Homo sapiens: one gene and its partners. The protein of the gene in region 2 purifies or fractionates together with the protein of the main gene of each other region. This does not show direct contact. Each region holds a gene or a part of one and is shown on either strand. Other genes may lie near its edges. The genes, in order: KNSTRN, MYCBP, OTUD4 and SPAG5.

Region 1 (7,024 bases), on a different chromosome or scaffold from region 2:
TGCTTGGAGGAGCTTAATGAGATGGTACAAGGATTCAGGCATGTTTTACCTGCTAACTTCCACCCTGCTCTCTGCTGGTGTCCATCTCCATGTTCACTTTTACAGCCTACACCTTTCAGTTCAATGAAACTTTTGGCTACCCTCAAACATGCTGTACTGTCACGTTTAAATAATTTTGGTTTTTATTGCCAATTAGCCTGGAAGTTTTATTCTTTTGAATTAATCTTCACATGTTGAAATTTGCCAGAATGAAAATAAAGATTTGGCCAGGCATCGTGGCTCACGCCAGAGTGGCCAAGGCAGGAGGATTGCTTGAGCCCAGGAGTTCGAGACCAGGCTGGGCAACATAGTGAGACCCTGTCTCTATTTTTAAAATTTTAAAACATATTTGAGGTGCCTATAGTCCAGCTACTCGGGAGGCTGAGGCAGGAGAATCGTTTGAACCCAAGAGGTGGAGGTTGCAGTGAGCCAAGATCACACCACTGTACTCCAGCCTGGGCCACAGAGCAAGACTCTGTCTCAAAAAAATAAATAATACTTTTTAAAATAAAGTAAAATAAAGATTTATGACAACTTCGAATGGGGCTCTGTTTGTTACAGGGTTGCAACTGTCGGGTCATGATGCCAGAAGCTTTACCTCTCATTTTCCTTTGCAGACACACAAACTCGGGCCACTTCTAAGAGTCTCTTACCTGTTAGGTCCAAAGAAGTCGATGTTTCCAAACAGCTTCATTCAGGAGGTCCAGAGAATGATGTTACAAAAATCACCAAACTGAGACGAGAGAATGGGTGAGAACGGATCATTAGTATCCAGTTAGAACATCTTCCTAGAAATTGCTCAATACAAAGAATTAGAAAACAGAGTTTTGGACAACACAAGTCTCCTGAACAACTGGCCTTCAATCAGTGGCCCAGAGCAGTGCAGCATTGCTGAGCTCTGTGCCAGAACCCTCTGTGTTGATCTTTCTGAAGAGACACAGCCAGAGTTATAAGAGGTGTTCTTTCCTCTTTCATCGCTTGCTCTGAGCATACAAGTGGCAGCACTGTAGTCATACAGCAACCCTGAGGGGTAGTCATGCAGGGTGGGGACTAGTTGTTATCCTAGGTTGCTGCTCTGACCACACAGTCCAGCCCTAGTGTGTGTGTATGTCCCCAGCCAGCAGTCAGTTCCAGGTGAGTGAGGTTGACATGAGATAGCCACGCCATCTTGAGAGGAACAGCTCTGTCAGGTTGTTAGGGTGGTCGGAGGCATGCCCCTTTGCTACTAAAAAGCCTTTTCAATAATCTGTGCCGAAGCAGTAATGCATAGTCTCTCAGAGCTCTTAAGCTTGTGCCATTTGCCTTTTATGTCTGGTTCTTTCCTCAGAAACTCAAGCTCTTTGTTCTGCCTGTTCACAGCACACTTAACAGTACTGTAAGTCTCTGATTCATTTCTTTGTTTCTGCCCTCCTAGGCAAATGAAAGCTACTGACACTGCCACCAGAAGGAATGTCAGAAAAGGGTGAGCATCAGGGTAAATCAACTTGGCCACTATTCTAGGGTAGTGGATCTCAATCCTTGGTTCTGCATCAGAATCATTTGTGGGACTTGTTTACTGTGTTAGGGTCTGGGTTCCACCTCAGGAACCTGAGTGGAATTTTCAGGGGTGAGGCACAGCTAGGTGTAAGAACCATTGTCAGTGCAAGAATCACTGGTGCTACTATCTTGTGTCTCAAGCAAGAGCTTTTTGGACTCCACGCCAGGACCACTGCTGATTGGAAATCACACTTAGCTATGGCCCATCAACAGGAGGGTAAAGCCTTCAGGAGAGGAAGGGCTGGGTGTATGTAGTTAGTGATCTCGAGATGAAGATTCTGGTGGTGGTGGTGGTGAAAACCTGGAGAAGGATTCATGTCTCATCTTTGAGGCTAGTTTGGAAGTTTTGCACTATCAGAAATAGAAATAATAAGCTGAAAAGTCTGTACAAATAGGTTTTAGTTCCAGATCTATTATTTGGGCATATCTTAAAAGTTTTGAAGACAGCAGGGCACACCAGCTCACACCTGTAATCGCAACACTTTGGGAGGCCAAGGTGGGTGGATCACCTGAGGTCAGGAGTTCGAGTCTAGCCTGGGAAACATGATGGGACCCCATCTCTACTAAAAATACAAAAATTAGCCAGGCATGGTGGCGCATGTCTGTAATCCCAGCTACTCAGGAGGCTGAGGCAGGAGGATCACTTCATCCCGGGAGGCAGAGATTGCAGTGAGCCAAGATCACGTCATTGCATTCCAGCCTGGGTGACAGAGCAAGACTCTGACTTACAAAAATAAAAAAGTTTTGAAGACAAAATACTAGCAAAAAAGACTGAGAACTTTAAGAAAAAACTCTAATATTGGTTGCTGAGACCAGCTTGGTCGGGGAGACCCTAACCCAGCGGCGCTAGAGGAATTAAAGACACACACACAGAAATATAGAGGTGTGAAGTGGGAAATCAGGGGTCTCACAGCCTTCAGAGCTGAGAGCCCCGAACAGAGATTTGCCCACGTATTTATTAACAGCAAACCAGTCATTAGCATTGTTTCTATAGATAGTAAATTAACTAAAAGTATCCCTTATGGGAAATGGATGGGCTGAATTAAAGGAATAGGTTGGGCTAGTTAACTGCAGCAGGAACACGCTCTTAAGACACAGATTGCTCATGCTATTGTTTGTGGCTTAAGAATGCCTTTAAGGGCCGGCGCAGTGGCTCACGCCTGTAATCCCAGGATTTTGGGAGGCCGAGGCGGGTGGATCTCAAGGTCAGGAGACCATCCTGGTTAACTATGGTGTTTCACCGTCTCTACTAAAAATACAAAAAATTAGCCAGGCATGGTGGCGGGTGCCTGTAGTCCCAGCTACTCGGGAGGCTGGGGCAGGAGAATGGTGTGAACCCAGGAGGTGGAGCTTGCAGTGAGCCGAGACCACGCCACTGCACTCCAGCCTGGGCGACGGAGCGAGACTCCATCTCAAAAAAAAAAAAAAATGCCTTTAAGTGGTTTTCCGCCCTTGGCAGGCCAGGTGTTCCTAGCCCTCATTCCCGTAAACCCACAACCTTCCAGCATGGGCATTAGGGCCTTTATGAACATGTTACAGTGCTGCAGAGATTTTGTTTATGGCCAGTTTTGGGGCCAGTTTATGGCCAGATTTGGGGGGCCTGCTCCCAACAATTGGTGATATTAGAGTTTATTAGATGATAAACTAACATTAGATAATAGCCCAGCTACTGGGCTAAGAAATGCACACGTGTTTTCTCTCTTATTACTCATAATAATAATACTATGAGATGTGGGTATTGTCCTGATTTCAAAAATGAGGAAACAAGGCCTCAGGGAGGTTATGCAACTCACTGAAGGTCATATACCACTGTGTAATAGCCAGGATAGAATGGGACGTGTTTGTGTAACTCTGTAGGCCGTATTTTTCTTTCTTTTTTTTTTAGACGGAGTTTTGCTCTTGTTGCCACCCAGGCTGGAGTGCAATGGCGCAATCTCAGCTCACCACAACCTCCGCCTCCTGGGTTCAAGCGATTATCCTGCCTCAGCCTCCCAAATACCTGGGATTACAGGCATGCGCCACCACGCCTGACTAATCTTTTGTAATTTTAGTAGAGACAGGGTTTCTCTTATCTTGGTCAGGCTGGTCTTGATTTCCCGACCTCAGGTGATCTGCCTGCCTCAGCCTCCCAAAGTGCTGGGATTACAGGCATGAGCTACCGCACCTGGTGTGGGCCATACTGTTAACCCTTTTATCTTTTCATGTAAGTACAACTATTATTACAGCTACAAACCACTGAGTAAGCAAAAATCAGAGGAAGAGCTCAAGGACAAGAACCAGCTGTTAGAAGCCGTCAACAAGCAGTTGCACCAGAAGTTGACTGAAACTCAGGTAAGAGACCCACCAGAGCTCTGTTACCAGCTGCCACTGGGCGATCCACATGGAATCCTGATGGGTGGCCCCTTGGATGAGCAAGCTTGTTAATGCACAGATGCCCAAGGGCAGAAAAAAAAAGCCAGGCTTTTGCTATGGCTGTCCAAGAGCAAGGGCAAGAAAGGGCAACCACCCCTAGGGAGTTGGACAATTCCTGATCTGTCTGTGCTGTGCTCCAATAGGGAGAGCTGAAGGACCTGACCCAGAAGGTAGAGCTGCTGGAGAAGTTTCGGGACAACTGTTTGGCAATTTTGGAGAGCAAGGGCCTTGATCCAGGTAAGAGACAGCACACAGCTAGCCTCCTTTGAAGGAATTGGTGCATGTGCCCCTTCCGGGGTTGATCTTGGCAGCATGGCATCAGCTGGCCCAGTATGTGCAGGGGTTACTTTCATAAAGCCCTAAAGATTTTGGAAAGCTTCTGTTTGTTTTCATGTGATGTTGATTTTTGCCTGGCCAATAGGATTTCAGATGATTATAGAGAGAGGGTTATCTCTTTCTTACCTGAACACTTTATGCCATTCATTTAGTGCCAACAGGTATGACCTTGCAAATAGATGAGAAACACTTTGTTCCTTTCAAGGGAGAACATTTTCTGTCTCTTCCTATTTGGGAAAGTTACTAGTGTGCTTGAAAGGAACATTTTGTTTGAACATGCTCTTCCTTTCAAGCATACTAGTAATCCCAAATGGGAAGAGAAAGAAAATACTATTTCAAGCATTCTTAAACCTGGTTAATCATCAGAATTACAGTGACTAAAATATGACTACTATTCTGACCCTGTCCCCCAGAAAGCAGTATCTGTAGCAAAGAGAGCAGAAGAAGGAATTGCCCAAAGACTGTAAGAGGGCCTCAGACTGAGTCAAAGAGCCAGAGAATGCCCAGGAAAGGGGCCCAGGCCTTTTTGTATTAAGGAATACTGACTTTGAATGTTACTGGTTAATCTTTAGGTTACAGTTGAGGATATTCTTTTTTTTTTTTTGAGATGAAGTCTCATTCCATTGCCCAAGCTGAAGTGCAGAGGTGTGATTTCGGCTCACTGAAACCTCCTCCTCCTGGGTTCAAGTGATTCTCCTGCCTCAGCCTCCTGAGTAGCTGGGATTACAGGCGTGTACCACCACACCCAGCTAATTTTTGTATTTTTAGTAGAGATGGGGTTTTGCCATGTTGGTCAGGCTGGTCTCAAACTCCTGACCTCAAGTGATCTGCCTGTCTCGGCCTCCCAGAGTGCTGGGTTTACAGACATGAGTTACCATGCCCAGCCTAGGATATTCTTTATAGTCACCATAAATATATATGTTTTTAAATTTAAAATTGTTTATTTTTTTGAGATGGGATCTCGCTATGTTGCCCAGGCTGGCCTCCAACTCCTGGGCTCAAGCAATCCTCCCAAATAGCTGGGACTACAGGTGTGCACCACCACATCCGACACCATAAATATTTTGTATGATTTTAGTTTATTACATGCATGTGATATTACCGAAAGTAATAATTTTTTAAGGCCTGAAAGGCTCTTAAAAATAGCTTTGTGAATTGTGAACAAAACCAAAAAAAATCCAACCTATACATTTCCTTTGGACAAATTGTCCACTGACCTAAGGAGAAAGTATACCGAATTTTTGGCCATATCAAAACCTAGATTGAAAGGAGATAAAATACAGTTTTGCAGGGCAGATATGGGTGACCCTGCCAAGGTGAAAACTTAGGAGAAAGTCCAGGATGAGACACTTAAGAGAAATTCCCCTCATGAATATTTCTGTACTTGTCCACGGAGGGTTTTTATTTTCTTTTGTTTAGGGTGTGTAGTTCCCTAAGTGAGATTGACTTTGTTGTATCCATCAGCTTTAGGCAGTGAGACCCTGGCATCACGACAAGAATCCACTACTGATCACATGGACTCTATGGTGAGGGCATGGGTGTGAAAGGGCGCAAGGGCTGAGTGACTGTGGGGCTCTGTAAATCTAAGAAGGTCTCTGCTATATATTCCATAAACTCCAAGAAACAGCCTTTGATTATCTGTGATGCTAGAAAAGAGAAATGGGATGTGTACTCAAAATAGCATATTTTACTTGAAAGGTAGCTTTGTGCTTACAAATATAAGTGAGTCTGAATTGAAAATTTAAAACACATAATAGGTAAACCTGTAGAGAGAGCTTTCTCGTTCTTCTGTTCTATACTTTATCAAATTTCTCTCCTGACTCCTTTGTTGAGAACTGTGTGGAAAGGATGTTAGCCATCATCTAATGCAAGTCTGGTTTTATATGAAGATTTGTTTACTACATTGTGCTTTCCTCTTAGTTGCTGTTAGAAACTTTGCAAGAGGAGCTGAAGCTTTTTAACGAAACAGCCAAAAAGCAGATGGAGGAGTTACAGGTGAGAGGCAGACATCACCCTGACCATTTCCTACCATGATAGGTAGATTTATAGTGGGGTCTTTTCTGTTTTTCTATTTATTTTTAATAAACTTTCTAAATAATTTTAGATTTATAGGAAAGTTACAAAGATAATACAGAAAATTTACCCTGATAGTAACGTGTTTTTTTTTTTCCAACTTTTAAGTTCAGGGGTACACGTACAGGGTGTGTAGGCTTGTTACACAGGTAAACGTGTGCCATGGTGGTTAGCTGCACAGATCATCCCATCACCTAGGTATTGAGCCCAGCATCCATTAGCTATTCTTCTTGATGCACTTCCTCCTCCACCCCCAATAGTAACATCTTACATTATCCTGGTACATTTGTCAAAACTAAGAAATCAGCCAGGCATGGTGGCTCACGCCTATAATCCCAGCACTTTGGGAGGCTGAGGTGGAAGGATTACTTGAAGCCAGGAGTTTGAGACCAGCCTGGGAAACATAACAAGACCCCATCTCTACAAAATAAAATTTAGAAAATAGCCAGGCGTGGTGGTACATACCTGTAGTCCCAGCTGCTCAGGAGGCTGAGGCAAGAAGACCACTTGGGCCCAGGAGGGCAAGGAGATAAAGTCTCACTGTTGTCCCCCAGGCTGGAGTGCAATGGCGTGATCTCGGCTCACTGCAACCTCCGCCTCCCGGGTTCAAGCGATTTTCTTGCCTCAG
Region 2 (7,920 bases):
AGAGACCTTGTCTCGAAAAAATATATATATGTAAATTAAATTTGTGAGGCTGGGCACAGTGGGTCACGCCTGTAACGTCAACACTTGGGGAAGCTAAGGCAGAAGGATCACTTGAGGCCAGGCATTCCTGGGTGACAGAGTGAGACTCTGTCTCAAAAAAAATAAAAAGTAAAAACAAATAGAGGCCGGGCGCGGTGGCTCACGCCTGTAATCCCAGCACTTTGGGAGGCCGAGGCGGGTGGATCATGAGGTCAGGAGATCGAGACCATCCTGGCTAACAAGGTGAAACCCCGTCTCTACTAAAAATACAAAAAATTAGCCGGGCGCGGTGGCGGGCGCCTGTAGTCCCAGCTACTCGGGAGGCTGAGGCAGGAGAATGGCGTGAACCCGGGAAGCGGAGCTTGCAGTGAGCCGAGATTGCGCCACTGCAGTCCGCAGTCCGGCCTGGGCGACAGAGCGAGACTCCGTCTCAAAAAAAAAAAAAAAAAAAAAAAAAAAAACAAATAGAATTGTGTAAAGCACCTATGTTTGGAGCTGAAAATCAAATTTTTAATAAATCACATCAATACTGTGTTGGCTGATGTTATTTAGGAGCCTGGAAATCTAAGGAGATTGAGAGGTTAAATTCTAGTGGAGGGCGGTGGCTCACACCTGTAATCCCAGCACTCTGCGGGGCTGAGGTGAGCGGATCACCTGAGGTAAGGAGTTCAAGACCAGCCTGGCCCATGTGGTGAAACCGCCTCTCTACTAAAAATACAAAAAATTAGCTAAGCATGGTGGCACATGCCTGTAATCCCAGCTACTTGGAAGGCTGAGGCAACACAATCGCTTGAACCCGGAGGTGGAGGTTGCAGTGAGCCGAGATCATGCCGCTGCACTCCAGCCTGGGCAACATCTTCTGTGTAGTCAGTTACCGCCTACAACTGTCATTTTTCTGCCTTTTACCATTCAGTCTTTCACTTGCTCCATCCAACCACTCTGGCCTCCTTAGACTTCCTGAAACTCTGTTTCTTTCAGGTTTCTGGTCAAAAATTACTTCTTAAGAAAGGCCTTCCCCCCATCACCCTATATAAAATGACACACACATCCCACCTGTCACTTTTTTTTTTTTTTTTTTTTGGAGACAGAGTGTCACTGTTGCCCAGTGGCACAATCACAACTCACTGCAGCCTTGACCTCCTGGGCTCAGGTGATTCTCTCACCTCAGCCTCCACAGTAGCTAGATTACAGGCACACACCATGCCCAGCAATTTTTTTTTTTTTTTAAGAGATGGGAGTTTTGCCATGTTGCCCAGGCTGGTCTTGAGCTCCTGGCCTCTAGCAGTCCACCCACCTCAGCCTCCCAAAGTGCTGAGATTACAGGCATGAGCCACGTGCCTGGCCTCACCTGTTACTCTTTATCCCTAACTTTGCTGTATTTTTATCTGTACCACTTACCACTAGCTGACACTACATATTTATTTATGTATTTCTCTCCCTCAACTAGGATATAAGCTTATGAGAGCCGAGACTTTTATCCTCCCCTGCTTATCTCCAGTGTGCAGAACAGACACCTGAGTAAAATTATTAAATGAAAGAAATGAACGTAAGGAGTTTTTAGACGGAATGACATTCAAAGCATCTGTGACACTTTCAGAGACAACATAGCACAGTACTTTCACAGAGTAGTCCCTTAAGACTTGCTGAAGTTTATTTGCAAAGAGGTAAACTATTATCTGAACCCCAAATAGGTAGCAATTCAAAATTACTAGCCTTCTTTCTTCTAAGACCCAGGAGTTATGCTCCTAGAATTTTCCTCTAAACTTTGCTTCTGTCCAAAGGGCAGTTACCAATTTATTTCCCACTTCCCAAACTTCCTAGTTTCATATGACCCAAGTCCTCATCCCTGCGAACAATTCCATTCTACACCCTTGAATATCCCAGTGAGTTGAGTGACACATAGCAGGCATTCAAATTAGTGCTAAGCCAATAAAGTAAACTGTACCCTACCCCTTGAAATCCTCCTGTTTCCAACACTTTACTCATCTACTTAACTTAGATCTTGAAGCCACGAATGAAGAGATACAGCGTTAACAGTAAGCTTTCATTTTAAAAAGTGAAAACAATGTAACCACCTTGATATGCCCTCGAGCTCTTTAAGCTGTAATTCTACTTTATGAAATATACACAAAATAAGAATTGACACAGACAGACTAAGGAATGGGGGCTGAAAAGCCACAGCCAAATTCGCTATGAATCTCCTACTTTGGGGATTAGGCTCACTCAGCTACTTCATAGCCCACTTGGAAATTCGGTCATTTTTCCAGTTGCTCTTTGTTGGAGGGAAACTTTCTTAACAAGATTCTGAGGACTCCATAAAAACCGTAAGGTGGGAGGAATTGGGATCTGAAGGTCCTTGGCAAACATGTCCACTGCGGCTGCTGGAGGCAAAGCAACGGAAGTTGAAGAGACTTTGCAACAGCTGCAAGAGTTTCACTCCCGGTGCGGAGAAGGGTAGCGGAGCTAGGCTACCCCACCCGGGCGGCGTCCAGCAGCCAGGTCCCTGCTGAACCCCGAGGCCCACCTCGCTGGACCCCGGACGGGCCCCATCTGTTTCCCCTCCTTCCCCACGCTACGGCCCGCTGGGGAACGGGGCAGCGCCGGGGAGCACGACGAGGGCACGAGGTACCCTCTCCTAGCCCAGGCTCACCCTTGGTCAGCGTGTCCAGCACCCCCGACTTCTCCAAGTACCTCCGGAACTGCTCACGCTTCGAGTCGGCGGCCTGAAGAGACACCGGGGGTCAGTGGCCAGAGCCCGGGAGCCGAGCAGGAAGAAGGCGCTGGGAGTCCGGCAACCCCGCCTCCGCCTCACTACCTCGGGGCCCTCCCGCCCAAACCTGCGCGCGCGACCCCACTCCCACCCAGAGCCGACCAGCGGCTTGCTACCGCCCGCATGCCCCCAGCCACGCCGCGCCCCCCTCACTTTGTAATGGGCCATAGTGACAGCGGCAGCGGCGTAGCTGGCGCCGGAGACCGCGACTGGCGGGTTGGGAGCAGCACTGCTCATGCGCGGAAGGGGGCGCGCGCCTGCGCACTTGCAAACCACCGGCCGGGATCGCCGAGGTGTGGCCTGTTTTCATGGCGACCAGGACGCTCTGCATCCCCAGTAGCAGGCTGAGCCGAGGGAGGCTGCGTATGCCCGCCCCTCTGGCTGTCGGAGCCGCACCTCTTCCTCTTCCGGCCCCCGTAGCAATTAGGTTTCTTTGCAGGAGGTGAGATTTTGGTACCTCTGTCCTGGCGTCCGGAGGCAGGGCCCGGGAGCATTGAGACTATTGCGAGAGAAAGGACCGCCGCACGGTGGTAGCGAGCGCATCTTTTTCATCTGGGACCTCGGAAACTGTGGTGACCCATAGGTGCTGGGCTTCTTGGCTCTCGTCCTGAGAAAGTGCTCACAGTGCTTTGCAGTAGCCGAGGAGGGTGTTTAGAATCATATATTTTGGCTTCAGCTTTTATCTTTGGAGTCTCCTTGAGTCGTGGCTGACTTGATGTGGGCCTCTGGAGGATGAGCAGTAACGAGCTTGCAGTAGCTTTTGAGCCAGGCACTGTAGAAAACACGGGTATTTTAAATTTTAATCCTTACAACACCCCTGTAGGGTGGGTATTGTTAATTAAGTGGAGTGGTTAGATGTCCAGTGAGTAGAGTCGAGTCCAATCCGGGCAATGAATCACGATGCTATGAACTGGTGAAGGAAAGCCACGGATCTTCTTAAGATTTTATTTACTAGGTAGCAACATGTGATTATACTCAAGACACATCAGGATGCCAGTCTAGAAGGAAACTTACGTGATTGTGTTCCAGGGGCAAACAGAATTAACCCAGTGTCCAAGGTGGAATTGTATAGATCAAGAACCATTTCCTAAGGCTGTGGTCTCTTCAAAGAGAAAACCTGATCAAACCATTTAGCCTCAATTCTGAACATGTGATTTTCCCAAAATCAGTTACATTCGAAAGGATATCATTTAAAAAAAAAAAAATCCTGATTTGACAACTCTATGTCTTTGAATTTAGAAGTGTTGCTTCACAATCTCGAATTAGAGCTGTTTTTCTCTTGCTTAAATGAGTTTGCAGTTGTCTGTCTTAACAGCTGGTCTTTAGAGCTGCCCCTATCTATTTTTTCTGTGCCCCACGACCACTAGGCTACTTCTCTGATAATATATATAATGTCTAAAAGCCAACCGCTGTTTAGATCTGAAGATCTGTGGGAACCCGCCTACCAATGAGATTGTTCGTTAGGGACACTACGTGATTTGGAGGACAAACAGGATTATTACAGGTTCTGACCAACCCTGGCTCAAAGGACAGCCCTCCCAAAGAATCAGCAGTGTTTGGAATGTCAAGTGATTGAGAATCTCCTTGTGAAGGAGGAAGGGTTCTGACTGTGCCCTTTCTGAACTGGCCCTTGAGGTTACCTTTAGGAGGTGACCCCCGGTTTTCATGTTCTGTAGAGGAACCCCATGTAGCTCTAAGCCACCGCGGTTTCCAATCGCAGTTAGCTGGCAAGGAGAAAACTGTTTGGGGTGACTGCCTCATGTTGTTCTCTCCATCTATAGCAACACCTGGAATAGAACGGTGACCTCTAGAGTAGTAGTTCCTTTTGCTGTCTTTGCCTTCAGTTTCTCTTTTTTCCATTAACTGGTTACCATTAAGTTCTTTTCCAAATATTTTATGAGTGTCTTTGTTATTGTTTGAACTGATGTGTTGAAAATGACTACAACTAGTACTAAGTGTGGAAATCTCATTAGAAAGTACAGTTTCCTGTTCATCCAAAATGCATTTCTCATCATTTACACTATGATTGTCAGGATTTGGCTGGAATACAGAAGATGAATTTAAACTAGGGTACACTGCAGTGTGTGTTTGCTTTTCCACTAACAGATTATAATCAGGGGCAGAAGGGAGTCGCTTCAGTGAATTTGCAGATGTGCTCTGGTATTTGGCTACATTTTGTTTTGCCTTGTTTGCATGGAATTCATTATGTTCCTTCTTCAACTTGTATTTTCCCCAAAGCCCTCTTTTAATCTTTTTAAAACCTAGGTGGAAAATTTCAAGAATGTTTAAGAAAAGTGAAATAGTGGCTATAGATTGCATAAATAATAGGAATATTGTCTTTTCTGTTGGTCTTGAGACAAAACAGTCGATTATATTTGGACACGGGTGGCCATGGCACTTAAATAGCGGCTCTAAGTGAAATCCATATAAAAGGTACTGTCCAATCATGAATCCAACTTCAACCACAGAGCGAGTGAAAATGTGTATCACATAAGTGCAAAGCAAGGTTCCTCTGAGTGGAGCTTTATTTAGTTTCCTTTTCTCCAGCTGACAAAGCTCTTGCTCCAATCTCCTCCGATCCCTAGGCATTTCAAACTCTACCTCCTCCAGTTCTACTCTTAACTGAGCTTTCATCCTTTGCCTCTCTTCCTCAAGAACTCTCAGTCGGTACAATGCATGGCCCATGTAGACCAGGGATGGTGAAGACACAAATATCACCTGCAGAACCCAGTATCTAATGAGGGAGATAGGAAAGGCCTGGTCGTAGCATACATTTCTGCAGCCTGGTTGTTCTGTATTGCAGATGAAGCCAGACTGCTCATCATTCCAGACATCTTCAGCTGCTACACCCAGAACAAGCATTCGAAATATGAACAGGATGGTGAGCCAGATCTTTCCAATCATGGTGGAGTGGATGTGAACTTCCTCCAGAGTATCTCCAAGGAGATTCCAGTCCCCCATGTTTATTTAGTCAGCCATCTTAGCTCTGATCCACATCAAATAAGAGGCAGATAAATTCTTCCATTCTGAAGGGAGCACTATTTCTTAAAGCAAACCTATGGTGAAAATATAACAATATGTCACTTCTATATGCTGGTTGCTTTACTTTTTCCCTAGATAGCTGTGGGGTTTTTTCTTTGTTTGTTTGTTTGTTGAGACAGAGTCTCCCTCTGTTGCCCAGGCTGGAGTACAGTGTTGCAACCACAACTCCCTGCAGCCTCAACCTCCCAGACTCAAGCGATCATCTCCCCTCTCAGCCTCCTGAGTAGCTGGGACTGCAGGTGTGTGCAACTACACCCAGATAATTTTTTTTATTTTTTTGTAGAGACAGGGTCTCACTCTATTGCTGCAGCTAGTCTTAAACTCCTAGACTCAAGTGATCCTCTTGCCTTCACCTCCCAAAGTGTGGGAATTACAGGTGTGGGTCACCACACCTGGCCAAAGTGTGAATCTGTTACCAATAATATACTTAAATGTCAGGAATTTAAAATCACTTATATTTAGACATCACAATACAATGAAAAAAACATGATACCTGGAGGAGGAGTGTATATATTCTCTATTAAGAATATAGGCTGGGCGGGGTGGCTCACACCTGTAATCCCAACACTTTGGGAGGCCAAGGTGGGTGGATCATTTGAGGTCAGGAGTTCCAGACCAGCCTGGCCAACATGGTAAAACCCCGCCTCTACTAAAAATACAAAAATTAGCCAGGCGTGGTGGCAGGCGCTTGTAGTCCCAGCTACTCGGGAGGCTGAGGCAAGAGAATCGCTTGAACCTGGAAGGCAGAGGTTGCAGTGAGCTGAGATCAAACCCTTGACCTCAGATGATCTGGCCACCTCGGCCTCCCAAAGTGCTGGGATTACAGGCATGAGCCAATGCGCATGGCCTAAAATTATATTCTTTTTTTTTTTTTTTTTGAGACGGAGTCTCACTCTGTAGCCCAGGCTGGAGTGCAATGGCATGATCTCAGCTCACCGCAACCTCCACCTCCTGGGTTCAAGCGATTCTCCTGCCTCAGCCTCCTGAGTAGCTGTGATTACAGGCATGCACCACCATGCCCGGATAATTTTGTATTTTTAGTAGAGATGATGTTTCTCCATGTTGGCCAGGCTGGTCTCGAACTCCTGACCTCAGGTGATCTGCCCACCTCGGCCTCCCAAAGTGCTGGGATTACAGGCGTGAGCCACCATGCCCAGCCTATTGTTGTTTTTCAACAGAACTTTTGGAAAGGTTTCTAAAACTAGTAACCTGATCTTAACCTTATTTATTAAGATTATTTGATATAAAAGTTATAACAAAGTCAATTTCTTTTTCCCCAACATGCCATTACTGGCTTGAAAAGTCAGTGATTTTTTTTTCTTTCTTTCTTTCTTTTGGGACAGAGTCTTGCTCTGTCGCCAGGCTGGAGTGCAGTGGCGCAATCTCGGCGCATTGCAACCTCCGCCTCCTGGGTTCAAGCGATTCCCCTGCCTCATCCTCCTGAGTAGCTGGGATTACAGGCGCCTGCCAACACCCCCCGGGATAATTTTTTGTATTTTAGTAGACACGGGGTTTCACCATGTTGGCCAGGATGATCTCGATCTCCTGACCTCGTGATCCACCCGCCTCAGCCTCCCAAAGTGCCAGGATTACAGGCATGAGCCACCGTGCCCGGTCAAAAAGTCAGTGATTTTTAAATCTCATTTATACACATAGGAAAACGAATATGCTTCATTTGATAATTCAGTAAGATATGGCATTCAGTGAAACCAGAGGAAACAGATCTGGCTGTCATAGGAATTTAGATTAGTTTTTTTAATCCAAATTGAAATAAATTTGAAATAAATTCTGGTTTCTTCCTGGCAATTGGTGAACATTTTCAGAAATTCATCTCAGTAATATTTATGAATATGTATAAAGTACTTATTATACTTTACTATGAAAAAGTATACTTTTTTTCTTTTTTTTTGGTGGGGGGAGACAGAGTCTCACTCTGTTGCCCAGACTAGAGTGCAGTGGCAGGATCTCAGCCCACTGCAACCTCCACTTCCCAGGTTCAAGTGATTCTCGTGCCTGAGCCTGCCAAGTAGCTGAGACTACAGGCAAGTGCCACCACGCTTGGCTAATTT
Region 3 (7,024 bases), on a different chromosome or scaffold from region 2:
AGCCTGGGCAACAGGGTGAAACCCTGTCTGTATTAAAAAATACAGTCCTTGTTGGTAGGCAACCCTTGGTTAGGATCAAATTTGTTTGCATATTATCTTTAGCTACTGTGTGTTTTTCTTACATTTCTAAGACTATAAGGGCTATTTGTACTTCATTTGTATAAAAGGCAGGCAACTCAATATGTATCTGGTGGTTAGAAATAGTGTTAAAGCAAAATGACCTCTTGTCTTTTTCTGTCTTCCCCCACTCACCCCTTTCTTGAAGAAGCCAGCAGAACATGTGTCTTTGTCAAATCCAGCTCCCCTTCTAGTTTCTCCAGAGGTACATCTAACTCCTGCGGTGCCTTCTTTACCAGCCACTGTGCCAGCCTGGCCAAGTGAACCTACAACTTTTGGACCAACAGGTTAGAGAAGGGTTTAGAAAATCTAGCCAGCCAAAATACCTTTCTAGTCAGAGACTTCAAATTCTTGAGTGGAAGTTTGACCTCTGAGCAGGATTAGGTGTGTGGAGCCTCACAGAGCTTTCTGTGATACTCTGCTTTGCTCTGCTTCCAATGTGGAAAGACCATGTACATTTGGTGTTGTATTCATCTGACATATGCCCTCATAGTCTCAGGAGCATGATGTTTGAGCTGGTTGCTTTGGTTGCTCAGCACTAATTAGCACCACGGTTTGATGCTTCCTTCATGGGCCAGCTCTTTATGGCCCCGTAATGAACCCCTTGACCAGCCCCATGTCCTACACGTGCCTGCAAGAGCTACTATTAGAAGACATTGACTCAGAGCTTGTATCCTGGACGTATTTCCTTCTTGGTGTCCAGGAGGGCTCTTGGTTGATACTAAAAGGTACTACTTTAGATTGGCTTTATCAGTTATACAGCATTCTTTATAGGTTAATGTAAGCATATTTGTAGAGATTTTCATCTTTTGTCATTTTGATTCCTTTTCTTCTCTTTTGTAGGTGTCCCTGCTCCAATTCCCGTTTTGTCAGTGACACAGACTTTGACCACTGGACCTGATTCAGCTGTATCCCAAGCTCATTTAACACCCTCTCCAGTTCCTGTGTCAATACAGGCAGTTAACCAGCCCTTGATGCCTTTGCCTCAGACATTGAGCCTTTATCAAGACCCACTCTATCCTGGGTTTCCTTGTAATGAAAAGGGAGATCGAGCCATTGTACCACCTTATTCACTGTGTCAGACTGGGGAGGACCTACCTAAAGGTGAGCTCCTTCTCCAAGTTCAAATCGACTTTATCAAGTCCAAATAAGCTTAGTTAAGAAATGAAGAGATGTAAGTAGAGGTCAGAGGTCTGGTTTCTTAGTAAGCTCAAGGATGGGAAGGACAGCAAAGTTTTAGCTATTAGTCAGTCATTCTTGTTTCAGCTTGATTTATTAGAAAATGTATTATAATTTTTTTTTTTTTTTTTTTTTGAGACGGAGTCTCGCTCTGTCACCCGGGCTGGAGTGCAGTGGTGTGATCTCGGCTCACTGCAACCTCCACCTCCCAGATTCAAACAATTCTCCCACTTCAGCATCCTGAGTAGCTGGGATGACTACAGGCACATGCCACCAGGCCTGGCTAATTTTTTGTATTTTTTAGTAGAGACGGGGTTTCACCGTGTTAGCCAGGATGGTCTCGATCTCCCGACCTCGTAATCTGCGTGCCTTGGCCTCCCGAAGTGCTGGGTTTACAGGTGTGAGCCACCGCGCCTGGCCCAGAAAATTTTTTTTTGTTTCTAGCATACTTGTTAATGCTAGTATGCTTAGTAATGATACCTCCTTCTGTGTTTTTACATAAATGGACTTGAAACCATTCTGAATTACAATAATAATTTCACTAATTAGATACCTAAACACTGTGGAGCTTTATCAACACTGGTCTGCATTTCAGACATGCATCCGTGAAAAAGTTACAGAGAAAAGCAAATATAGTATGTAGTGGCTGTTAAAGTACTATATTTAGTATGTCTTATTTTTGTTTAAAAAATTCTTTCAAAGTTTGCTTTCCCTCTTTATTTTTAAGGAATTTACACCTCCCTCCTTTTTAGTTTCCAAAATTTTATATCTGTAAATTTGAGTAATGCACTGACTACTATATGCTGTTTACCTGGATTTATGTGGATGTTTTTGTTTTATTAGTTAGTAGTTTGATGTTTGTGTCTATGAGTAACTGGCTCATGGCATATGAATACTTGGAAGAATATTATCCTGCAAATGATGCTACTAATAAGTTAGGTTTTATGTTGATTTTACCATTCTTCTCAACATTTTTATTTCCTAATTTTTAAACCCCCAGAAAAGTTGAGAAAGAAAGCCACCTGAATGTCCTTTACCCAGATTCAGTTTTAATGAGATAAAAATTTCAATCTAAGCCATTTTGGGATTTATATGCTAACAGACAAAGCCTATTGAATCTGGAATTAACCTTTGGGAACAACCTGTTTTTGGGTTGTGTTATATTACAGTTTTTATCTATGTTTTGTATCACAGGCTAGAGAAGACAATTATAGTAGGTAAAATTGTCTTTAGAACTATATATTTAATGAGGATGATTTAAAAAAATCTCTGCAGATATATAATTTTAACAAGTGATTACTTTTATTTTTAGATAAGAATATTCTTCGATTCTTCTTCAATCTTGGTGTGAAGGTATTTACATTTTATCATCTTAAAAGTTATTTTATTCATTAATAGTGTTTTAAATTATTACTAGTGTTAACTCTTACCCTGTCAGTCAGTAACCTAAAGTTTACTAAATCTCATCATTTTAAAAACCAGCATTTTCAGTACTATATCGTTTGTTTTTGGTGCTAGTAGAGGCTCCAGTTTTACTTACTTTTTTGTCTTAACTGGTGATGGCTTAACCTGTGAGTATATTTAAGACATAGCTGCATCTTTGGGCAGCCTAGTGGAAATGCCCTTGCTGGGGAATAATTAGATGTAAATCTGGGCTTGAAGTTCTGCTCCATCACTCTTTAGCTGAATTTCCCTGGGCAAGCCATGTAGTGTATCTGGGCCTAGCTTTTTTCATTTATAGAATGGGGGTAATATTCTTTACTTGCCTCCATTATTGAAAAGATCAAAGGAAATAACGTGTACATCCTCCTATGTAAGATAGTGTGGTTGTTGACTAGAAGAGCAGAGGTATCCTTTGGGAAGTGGTCAACCTAGAAATAGCTTTTCTTAGGTTGGAGAACTCTGTCCTTGTTAAATGTTAGGTTTTCTCCTGACCTAGATTAGTTTTTGTGGGTTCTAGACAGTTAAACTATGAAACGAAGTGCCCTACCTTTAGCCTGCTGACCACTTTCATAAAAAGAAACTTGATTATTTTACTATCTGCTGCATTGCTTAATTTTAATGTATTTAATGTTGATTTTAATTGGTTAGCCAATTAGCTGGTTATACTTTCTTCATATTTTGGTTTTTAGCTGAACTCTTGCAGAGGAAGGATTTGGAATATTTCATTTTCAACATTATCCCTCCCTGATTAGAGGTCTAACTTAATCCTTACATTCGGAGTACTCTTGGGGGCTCCTAGAATTGCAGAGTCCTGACATTGGAGATCATCTACTCTTATACTGACATTCCCAGTAAAACAAATTCAGATGTTAACTGGCCTGCATGGGGTCACACAGTGAGTTAGTGGTAGAGCCCGAATGTGAATGCAGGTCTGGCTAAACAGTCAGTGATGGAGATACTATCTCCTATCAACCTATGAGGACTTCAGATTGGTTTTAGGACAGGAGCAAGCAATGGAGTCTTAAAGCAGTGAATTTTGTAATTCATTTTCACGTTGGTTATCACAGTGATTTAGTATTTGGACTATAGATTATATGGTCTTTGTAGGCATGAGAAACTTATTTTGACCCTAGTACTTGTAGATTGATATCCACCCAAACCTCTCTTTTTTCTCCTCTTTTGTTTATTTAACTGTTTTTTGTCTCTTCAGGCATACAGTTGTCCTATGTGGGCCCCACATTCTTACCTGTACCCTCTGCACCAGGCCTACCTGGCAGCCTGCAGGATGTACCCAAAGGTCCCTGTCCCTGTTTATCCTCATAATCCCTGGTTCCAAGAGGCTCCTGCTGCTCAGAATGAAAGTGATTGTACCTGTACTGATGCCCACTTTCCTATGCAGACTGAGGCCAGTGTTAATGGTCAAATGCCACAGCCAGAGATTGGACCGCCGACATTTTCTTCACCTCTGGTTATCCCTCCATCTCAGGTGTCTGAAAGTCATGGACAATTGTCTTACCAGGCTGATCTTGAATCTGAGACCCCTGGGCAGCTTCTGCATGCTGATTATGAAGAGTCACTAAGTGGCAAGAATATGTTCCCCCAGCCATCTTTTGGACCCAATCCATTCTTAGGCCCAGTTCCTATTGCACCTCCTTTCTTTCCTCATGTTTGGTATGGGTACCCTTTTCAGGGATTCATAGAAAATCCAGTAATGAGGCAGAATATTGTCCTGCCCTCTGATGAAAAAGGAGAATTGGATCTGTCTCTGGAAAATCTGGATCTGTCTAAAGATTGTGGTTCAGTTTCAACAGTAGATGAGTTTCCAGAAGCCAGGGGTGAACATGTACATTCTCTCCCTGAAGCAAGTGTGAGCAGTAAGCCGGACGAAGGCCGGACAGAGCAATCTTCCCAGACACGAAAGGCAGATACGGCATTGGCTTCCATCCCTCCTGTAGCAGAGGGAAAGGCTCATCCTCCCACTCAGATTCTAAACAGAGAGAGAGAAACTGTGCCTGTTGAACTTGAACCTAAAAGGACCATTCAAAGCCTGAAAGAAAAAACAGAAAAAGTAAAAGATCCTAAGACTGCTGCTGATGTGGTCAGCCCTGGGGCCAACTCTGTTGATAGCAGAGTGCAAAGACCAAAAGAAGAGAGTTCAGAAGATGAAAATGAAGTGTCTAATATTTTGAGAAGTGGTAGATCCAAGCAGTTCTATAATCAAACTTATGGAAGCAGGAAGTACAAAAGTGATTGGGGCTATTCTGGTAGGGGTGGATATCAACATGTGAGAAGTGAGGAGTCCTGGAAAGGACAGCCAAGCAGAAGTCGGGATGAAGGTTATCAGTACCATCGAAATGTCAGAGGGCGACCATTTAGGGGAGATAGGAGGAGATCAGGGATGGGAGATGGCCATAGGGGACAGCACACTTGATGGTTGTTGCCGAAGTATTTTCTAACAGAAACTCTTAGGTGGAATGTTTCTGAAGGCTTTAAAAAAAATACAATAAAGTAAAAACCGCAGTTGGAACTCTTTCCTCTCCCCAGCCCCCCTTACCTTCACTCCCATACTGGACAAGACATTTTGGACATGAGTTCAAGGGGGCAGGTTAATTCCTGGCATTGCCAGTTTTCTTCATTCAGAATCTGTTTGTTGATCAAGTGACTGTCCCCGTAAAAAGTAGAAGATAAGTTTGTTAAAGTATTTTTTATAAACAGCTTAATATAAAACATTATAGATTTAGTGTTTGGCTTTTTTCCTTATAAGTTTATAAGTTTGATTTCAGATGTTGGAAATGTGTGCTTTATAGTGTTTACTAAAGTGACAAGAAAATATACCATTTGACACACTATAGATTCCAAACATAACGTTGCACCAAATAGAAATGTATATTTTATTATGCAATGCCTTAGTCATAAACTGGGCTCAAACAATTCTCAGCCTAAAACACTGTTGTCTTTTAAAATGCTTCCAACCCAAAGGCCTTTCATCTCAATATCTGTCAAACTTGAATAATGTCTTCTCTTTAATATTCACATAAGGCAGCCTATTAACTGTGTCTTAGCAATGTTGTATATAGTTCTTTTAATATTCATAAGGTATATTTTTGAATTTTGGTATTTGTTGAGATTGCATAGAAGAATAGTAGGAAATCCAATGAAATGGCTGTTTCCACCAAGAATTCTTAGCACTGGTGTAAATATCATGGTGCCTACTCGAAAGAAATGTAGATGCTATGCATTTTGAAAATAATCTGCATCAGTTAGAACTGCAGAAGTTTTTTTAATGCCACTTTAACACTAATGCACTGACAGATTCTAAATATTTTGTGAGAAGAAATGTTAAAAATTTTTAGCTTGACAGGTTTCTAGAGTTGTTTTCTTCCTCCCCCCCCCCCCCGCACCATTGGTTGTGTATCACTTTCACTTTACACTTGCATGTTCTACTTGTCAGGGCTGGAACTATTGTATAGAAGATAATATGATTGTGACTTCTAGTTCTTTTCTAGAGGATGCTGCTAGAAAATGGTTTTGCTTTGTATTTTATAGCTTGTTACCCTTAGGTAGGTAACATCTTACATTCTGTTTTCTTCCAGTCTTTGCAGTATTCACTAGAGGTTCCCTTTGCATGTTGCACTCTGTTCTCATTTGGAGATTGAACTCTGAATTAACACAGTATTCATTCATCTGTGTTATTTTGTAAAAATAACTGTAGCTTATATTCTTTATTTGTGCATACCAATGTGAAAATCCACTCTTTTATTATGTTGAGATTATCTTCTGATCAGGAAGTTTGAGTGCTATGCAAATAACATAGTAGTAATTTCTCTTTGCATGCCATGTGTAATATACCTAGCCAAAACCAGATGCGGTGACTTTCTTTTTTTGTAAAGCAAATTACTTAAGAAAATACAATTCACTTGAATTTGACAAACTGAAACAGATGGGTTTTCTGGGTTCTCTGATAACCTATGGGAATGTTTGGATGCCAGTTGGGCTAGTGAATCGCCACTGTACTGTAATAATGGTTATTTACCTCTGTGCTGTTTTAATTACCTAACGTCTGTGTAACTGCTGATTTGAGTAGTGATTAGCATTTAGATAATGTAACAGGATTTTAGAGAGCACTTTGAAAGATAACATTTTATTATGATGGTGCTAGGTAAAAAATTGTAAAGACTGGGATGGTTGTGTGGAAAACTTTTCTTGAGAGAACCTATTGAAAGGAATTTGTTGTCACCTTCTTAACTAGAATAGTTGTTGAAGGTACCGCTTAAGCCATTTTTTT
Region 4 (7,024 bases), on a different chromosome or scaffold from region 2:
AAAACTAAGTACCCTTAAGTTTAAATTGTTGCAAAGGCTGTAATGTCCAGCATATTACCAATATTGACAATTTAAAATAATTTTTTTTTTTTTTGAGACAGAGTCTTACTCTATCCTCCAGGCTGGAGTGCAGTGGCGCGATCTTGGCTCACTGCAACCTCTGCCTCCCGGGTTCAAGCGATTCTCATGCCTCAGCCTCCCAAGTAGCTGGAATTACAGGTGCCCTCCACCACACCCAGCTAATTTTTGTATTTTTAGTAAAGACGGGGTTTCGCCATGTTGGCCAGGCTGGTCTTGAACTCCTGACCTCAGGTGATCCTCCCGCCTCGGCCTCCCAAAGTGTTGGGATTACAGGTATGAGCCACCATGCCCAGCCTAAAATAAAATTATTAGATTACTCTTAAATATATCCAGTGGCATAAATACTACATACACCAAAATGATGAGATACCTAGTTGCTATCTTTTAAAAATACAAGAAAAAGCTCTTCTTAGCAGTCAGAAATTTTATTATGTCATCCCTTTTTCTCTTTGAACATATATTTTTTATTTTTCTCAGAATTTCAGCCTAATGTAATATATTTTTATGCTTTAAAGTATGTTATTAGCTGGGCACAGTGGCTCACACCTGTAATCCCAGTGCTTTGGGAGGCAAAGGCTAGCAGATCACTTGAGCCCAGGGGTTTGAGAACAGCCTGGCCAACATAGCAAAACCCCATCTCTACTAAAAATACAAAAAAATTAGGTAGGTGTGGTGGCATACACCTACAGTCCTAGCTACCCAGGAGGCTGAGGTGGGAGGATCACCTGAGCCAAGGAAGCTGAGGCTTCAGTGAGCCCTGATCGCAACATGGTACTCTAGCCTGGGTGACAGACCAAGAAACTATCTCAAAAAATAAAAATAAAATCTGTTATTAACCATCATCTCTGCAACAACAATGAAAGTTCATCTAAATTTAAATTAAAATTTCCTTTAAATTCCTTTGACCGGAAGGCTTTAAAGTGAAAAAGCTTTCTTTAGGATAGAGAAATCTTTTAATCAGTTGTATATTAGTCACTGTAATATAATTTCTAATAAAATAAACATGCTCGGCAAAATTTAATTGGGAATCACCTATTAATGAAATCGATGGAGATTCCTTCCCCTTATTAGTTCGTATATCTGTGGATTACTATAATTCCAGCAATAAGAAATAGTTCAGCAACAATTCGTGACTCTGTTTTTTGAGGCAGGGTCTGGCTCTGTTGCCCAGGCTGGAGTGCAGTGTCAAGATCTCAGTTCACTGCAGCCTTGAACTCCTAGCCTCAAGTGATCCTCCACCTCAGCCTTCCAAGTAGCTGGGACTACAGGCACACACCACCACACCCAGCTAATTTTTGTATTTTTTTGTAGAGATGAGGTTTCACCATACTTCTCAGGCTGGTCTTGAACTCCTGAGCTCAAGCGATCCTCCCACCTCACCCTCCCAAAGTACTGAGATTACAGGGGTGAGCCACTATGCCAGCTGACTCCTTTCCATTCTGACAGATGTAAACACTGAGAAATCTTCTTCACATAAACAACAGGGGCCAGGCGCAGTGGCTCACGCCTGTAATCCCAGCACTTTGGGAGGCTGAGGCAGGTGGATCATGAGGGCAGGAGTTCGAGACCAGCCTGGCCAACATAGTGAAACCCTGTCTCTACTAAAAATACAAAAATTAGCCGGGTGGGGTGGCATGCGCTTGTAGTCCCAGCTACTCAGGAGGCTGAGGCAGGAGAATCGCTTGAACCTGGGAGGCAGAGGTTGCAGTGAGCCGAGACCAGGCCATTGCACTCCAGCCTGGGTGACAGAGTGAGACTCCGTCTCAAAAAAAAAAAAAAAAAAAAAAAAACTAAAAGTATAATTGGATTGCTTGTAACACAAAGGATAAATGCTTGAGGGGACAGATACAGATACTCCATTTTCCATTTTCCATGATGTGATTATTGACCATCACATGCCTATATCAAAACATCTCATGGACTCCATGAATATATTTACCTAACTCTGTAACCACAAAAATTAAAAATTATTTTAAAAAATGTTTTAGGCTTATTCATAATTTTTCTTAAAATATTAAATATAGTCTACCAATGCAAAAAACGAAGAAAAAGAATACTTGTGGAAGATGATGATCTAAAAACCAATTCCTTTAAAAGTTTCCTTGCTTGCACTCCTTTGGAAAGTTCTGATGTACCCCAGGGGTAGAGTGACTACCCACAGCTTTAAGGGGATTTTCCAGATCCTCAGCTTTTTTGTTTTAAGAGACAGGGTTTCACTGTCTTGCCCATGATCATAGCTCACTGCAGCCTTAGCCTCCTGGGCTCAAATGATCCTCCTGCCTCAGCCTCCTGAGTAGTGAGGCATGCAAAACCATATCCAGCTGATTTTTTAAAAATCTTTTGTAGGGATGGGATCTCGCTGTGTTGCCCAAGCTGGTTTCAAATGCCTGGCCTCAAGCAGTCCTCCCACCTTGGCCTCCCAAAGCAGTGGGATTACAGGCATCAGCCATTGTGACTGCCCAGATTCTCAGCTTTTGCAAATGTTCTAAGTATAAGCCTGTGATAGGAGTCCCCTTTGCCCTCTGGCAGCTTCTCAGCTTAAATTCCAAGGATCCCCACTGGGATCCCTCAAGCTTTGAGAGGAACCTTCTTACCCCACTGTGAGATGTGTCAGTCTGTGTGCTACTGTCCTGGGTTTCTGGGTGAGGGACAGCCAGCTGGCTCTTCCAGTCCCGAAGCTGGCGGGAGAGAACCTCCAGAATGACAAGAGAGCTCAGCAGGTTATCTTCCAAGTCATGTCGAGACAAGGCAGTCAGATCTGGAGGCCGGCTGCAGCAGAAAGAGAAGAACATGACGAAAAGAAAAGGAGGGGAAGGGATGGGAGGGGAAGGTCCAGGGTAATGGAACTCACGAGGTGCAAGGACATAGGGGCGCTTACCCACACAGGAGCTGCTCTGTCTCAGAAGTACTGTGCTTGGTGCCAACCAGGCCTGTCTGGGATGTGTTTGTACTCTTTTCCTGTGGTGCTGAAGGAGTAAACCAAGTCCCCACCGAGCAAGTAGAGAAAGGGGTAGTGCCAATTGCAGCATCCCGAAGCATCGAGGGAAGGGATAAGCTTTGGCGGAGATTTTCCAGCATGACGGAGGTATTTACACCTTTTTCCAGCCAGGCCAGTGGGGACATCCAAGACTCTGTATCAGAGCCAAGAATCCTACCAACATCTTCTACTGCTGGGCCTGGAGCTTCTTGGGATTCCATTTCTACTAGATTTGGTGTCAGGCATGTGGACAGAATATCTTCCACACTTGAGACAAGTGCTTGATCTTCTGTTTCAGACTCCTTAGGATGTGTGGGAAACCTCATTTCTCTTTCCTCCATAGCTCCATGCTCTACAATTTCCTCCTCTGGGTCCACATGATTGACACGGAAATCTGCTGCCAAGGCAGTTGAAGGGGAAAGCCAGAGAACAGAGGAAGGCAAGAAGGCGTTACTTTCAGAAGGTACTAAGTCCTCACGCACAGCCTCAGTTCTACTGCTCAGGCTTTCCTTGGAGCAATGTAGTTGTTCAGAACAGGGATTTGGTGGAGACTCCTCTAAGAGATGGGACGGAGATTCCTGAAAGATAGGTTTCTCAGATACAGCAGCAACTTCTGAAAACCTGTCTCCCATGCAGGGTGCCACCTCCTCTCTCACCAGATCGTCTGTTCTCAAAGGTCCATTTAAAGATATGCTGTTTGTCTCTGCCATGGTATCTAAACGGGCCTCAAATATCATGTCTTGTTGCTGCCCCAGTGGAGATGGTACAAGGACGATGGTTTTAACCATATAATTGCCCAGTGGGTCTACTGCTTCCTCAGACGTTTTAGGAGTAGAGCTAATTTGGGGAATTGGATCTAGAGGCTGCTCATCTGATTCATGCTGACAAGTTTCTAGCCACTTTGAGGAATGACTGAAATGTTCTGAAGATAAGTCTGTCCTCTTGTTATTTACAAAATCCACTGGAGATGAGTTGTTGCTGCCTTCCTGCCAAAGGAAACAAAAGTAGTTGTCTAAGGCAGTCAATTCAGTTCCCGACATACAATTACAGGTGCAAGATAGTGCACTCAAAAAAGAAAAGAATTCTTACTACCTCTGCTTAGGTAAGAACTTGGCTAATCTTTGTTGCTCATATAGAGACCCAATAGTAGGGAAAGAAAAGCTGCTAAGCCATTTTGGGTCCTTCCAAGTGAACCAGCCTACATTATAAACAGGCTGAGAATATAGATCCATATCGTGGGCAGATGGTAGCTTGAAAGTGACCCCACTCATCTCCATTCTGAACTCTAACGCACTTCTAGATGAACAGATAGGAGGGGTCCATAGGGTGTGAGTGAAGGCTTAAGCTCTGTCAGAATCTAGAGTTGGTACAAGTTCTTCTCCCTCTCGGCTGGGCGCAGTGGCTCACGCCTGTAATCTCAGCATTTGGGAGGCCACAAGCAGGTGGATCGCTTGAGTTCAAACCTCATCTCTACTAAAAATACAAACATTAGCCGGGCATGGTGGTGCTGATGTGTGCCTGTAGTCCCAGCTACTCAGGAAGCTGAGGTGGGAGGATCACTGAAGCTCAGGGGGCAGAGGTTGCAGTGAGCCAAAATCGTGCCACTGCACTCCAGCCTGGGTGACAGAGCAAAACCCTGTCTCAAAAAAAAATAAATAAATAAATAAAAAAGGTAGACCCTAACAAAACAGAGCTGCTGGAAGACACAGATGATAATCTGAACAACAACAAAAAAAACGAGTACTTAAGCTTTAACTACAACATAAATACACACACAAAGACATTTTAGAAATAATAAATATTATTTTAAATAAAAAATGTCAGTAAAATGAATTGAAAGAGTAAATTATTAGAGTTGAAACTAGAATTACTGGCCTGGACAAGTGGAAGAAATATCTTAAAGCAAAGATAAAAATATAAAGAAATGTAAATCTGAAGAAAAAGCTAAGAGAATTAGAAGATAAACCCAGGATACCTAACAGTTAAATAAAAGAAATTCCAGAAGAGAACATATATACATGAGGCGCTGATTAACAAATATTAGAAGAAAACTACCCTAATGAAAGACCTGAGTTTGCACATTAAAATGGCTCACCAGTTTCTAAGCAGGACTGACTAGAAAAGATACATGCTAGACACATAATTATAAAATTTCTGTGCTACAATGAAGAAAAAACTATTCTGGAAGCTTTAGATAGAAAGTCCAATTATTTATTAAAAAAATAATCAAACAGACCGGGCGCAGTGGCTCACGCCTGTAATCCCAGCACTTTGGGAGGCTGAGGCGGGCGGATCACGAGGTCAGGAGATCGAGACCATCCTGGCTAACACGATGAAACCCCGTCTCTACTAAAAATACAAAAAATTAGCTGGCTGTGGTGGCGGGCACCTGTAGTCCCAGCTATTTGGGAGGCTGAGGCAGGAGAATGGCGTGAACCCGGGAGGTGGAGCTTGCAGTGAGCCAAGATCGTGACACTGCACTCCAGCCTGGGCAACAGAGCGAGACTCCGTCTCAAAAAATAATAATAATAATAATCAAACATATGAAATTTCTCATTTATATTAGTGGATGAAACAAAACCAAGGTTAGGTTAAAAAGGGCTTCTGATATTCTGGTACTGTCCTACTTACTGACCTGGGTATTAGTTACATGGATGTGTACTTTATAGTAATTTGTTATGCTGTTATGTTTTATTGTAATTTCATGTATCTTACTTTAATTTTGAAATTATTAAAAGGTATGATGGCTCACACCTGTAGTCCCAGCTATTCAGGAGGCTGAGGTGGGAGGACTGCTAGAGCTCAGGAGTTCAAGGTTGCAATAAGCCAAGATCACACCACTGCACTCTAGCCTGGGTAACAGAGCAAGACCCTGTCTCAAAAAAAAAAATAAAAAAGACAGGGCATGGTGGCTTACACCTGTAATCCCAGCACTTTGGGAGGCTGAGGCGGTCAGATCACAAGGTCAGGAGTTCGAGTGCAGCTGGGCCAACATGGTGAAACCCCATCTCTACTCAAAATACAAAAATTAGCTGGGCATGGTGGCGGGTGCCTGTAGTCCCAGCTACTCGGGAGGCTGAGGCAGGAGAATCGCTTGAATCTGGGAAGCAGAGGTTGCAGTGAGCCAAGATCGCGGCACTGCACTCCAATCTGGGCGATACAACAAGACTCCTTCTCAAAAAAAAAAAAAAAAAGACAATATAAAGATGAGTGTGTGTGTGTGTGTGTGCATATATACAAAATAGACACACATAAAGAGATGTATGAAAGAACTGTCAAATATGACATTTATCTAAGATACCAGAAATATTTCTTCCTTATACATTTATATATTCAAATGCTTCAAACAATTAATATCTATTAATAATCAAAAATTTACAAAACAGGCCAGGTGCAGTGGCCCACGCCTGTAATCCCAGCACTTTGGGAGGCCAAGGAGGGTGGATCACTTGAGGTCAAGAGTTTGAGACCAGCCTGGCCAATGTGGTGAAACCCCGCCTCTACTAAAAATACAAAAAATTAGCCAGGCATGGTGGCACGCGCCTGTAATCCCAGCTACTGGGGAGGCTGAAGCAGGAGAATTGCTTGAACCCGGGAAGCAGAGGTTGCAGTGAGCCGAGATCACACCACTGCACTCTAGCCTGGATGAAGGAGTGAGATCCTGTCTCAAAAAAAAAAAATTAGGCCGGGCGCGGTGGCTCACGCCCGTAATCCCAGCACTTTGGGAGGCTGAGGCAGGCAGATCACGAGGTCAGGAGTTCAAGACCAGCCTGACCCCCAACATGGTGAAACCCTGTCTCTACTAAAAATACAAAAATTACCTGGGCGTAGTGATACATGCCTGTAATCCCAGCTACTCAGGAGGCTGAGGCAAGAGAATTGCATGAACCTGGGAGGCGGAGGTTGCAGTGACCCTAGATGGCACCACTGCACTCCAGCCTGGGTGACAGAGCAAGACTCCGTCTC

The links.
Region 1: the proteins of MYCBP (region 2) and KNSTRN purify together in Homo sapiens (co-immunoprecipitation; 2 studies listed by BioGRID and IntAct, with this or other methods). This does not show direct contact.
Region 3: the proteins of MYCBP (region 2) and OTUD4 purify together in Homo sapiens (co-immunoprecipitation; 3 studies listed by BioGRID and IntAct, with this or other methods). This does not show direct contact.
Region 4: the proteins of MYCBP (region 2) and SPAG5 purify together in Homo sapiens (co-immunoprecipitation; 3 studies listed by BioGRID and IntAct, with this or other methods). This does not show direct contact.

Annotation. Positions count from the first base shown.
Region 1 is NC_000015.10:40,385,706-40,392,729, forward strand, and holds part of KNSTRN (small kinetochore-associated protein), read left to right. Parts: intron 1-656; coding exon 657-789; intron 790-1,453; coding exon 1,454-1,501; intron 1,502-3,800; coding exon 3,801-3,906; intron 3,907-4,130; coding exon 4,131-4,224; intron 4,225-5,787; coding exon 5,788-5,849; intron 5,850-6,243; coding exon 6,244-6,318; intron 6,319-7,024. UniProt on the Homo sapiens protein: Essential component of the mitotic spindle required for faithful chromosome segregation and progression into anaphase.
Region 2 is NC_000001.11:38,870,329-38,878,248, forward strand, and holds the start of MYCBP (C-Myc-binding protein), read right to left. Parts: upstream 3,021-7,920; 5' UTR 2,978-3,020; coding exon 2,963-2,977; intron 2,763-2,962; coding exon 2,690-2,762; intron 1-2,689. Other genes in the region: GJA9 (gap junction alpha-9 protein), read right to left, coding at 4,223-5,770. UniProt on the Homo sapiens protein: May control the transcriptional activity of MYC. Stimulates the activation of E box-dependent transcription by MYC.
Region 3 is NC_000004.12:145,135,576-145,142,599, reverse strand, and holds part of OTUD4 (OTU domain-containing protein 4), read left to right. Parts: intron 1-265; coding exon 266-404; intron 405-960; coding exon 961-1,221; intron 1,222-2,608; coding exon 2,609-2,649; intron 2,650-3,949; coding exon 3,950-5,170; 3' UTR 5,171-7,024.
Region 4 is NC_000017.11:28,589,023-28,596,046, forward strand, and holds part of SPAG5 (sperm-associated antigen 5), read right to left. Parts: intron 4,045-7,024; coding exon 2,960-4,044; intron 2,851-2,959; coding exon 2,676-2,850; intron 1-2,675. UniProt on the Homo sapiens protein: Essential component of the mitotic spindle required for normal chromosome segregation and progression into anaphase. Required for chromosome alignment, normal timing of sister chromatid segregation, and maintenance of spindle pole architecture.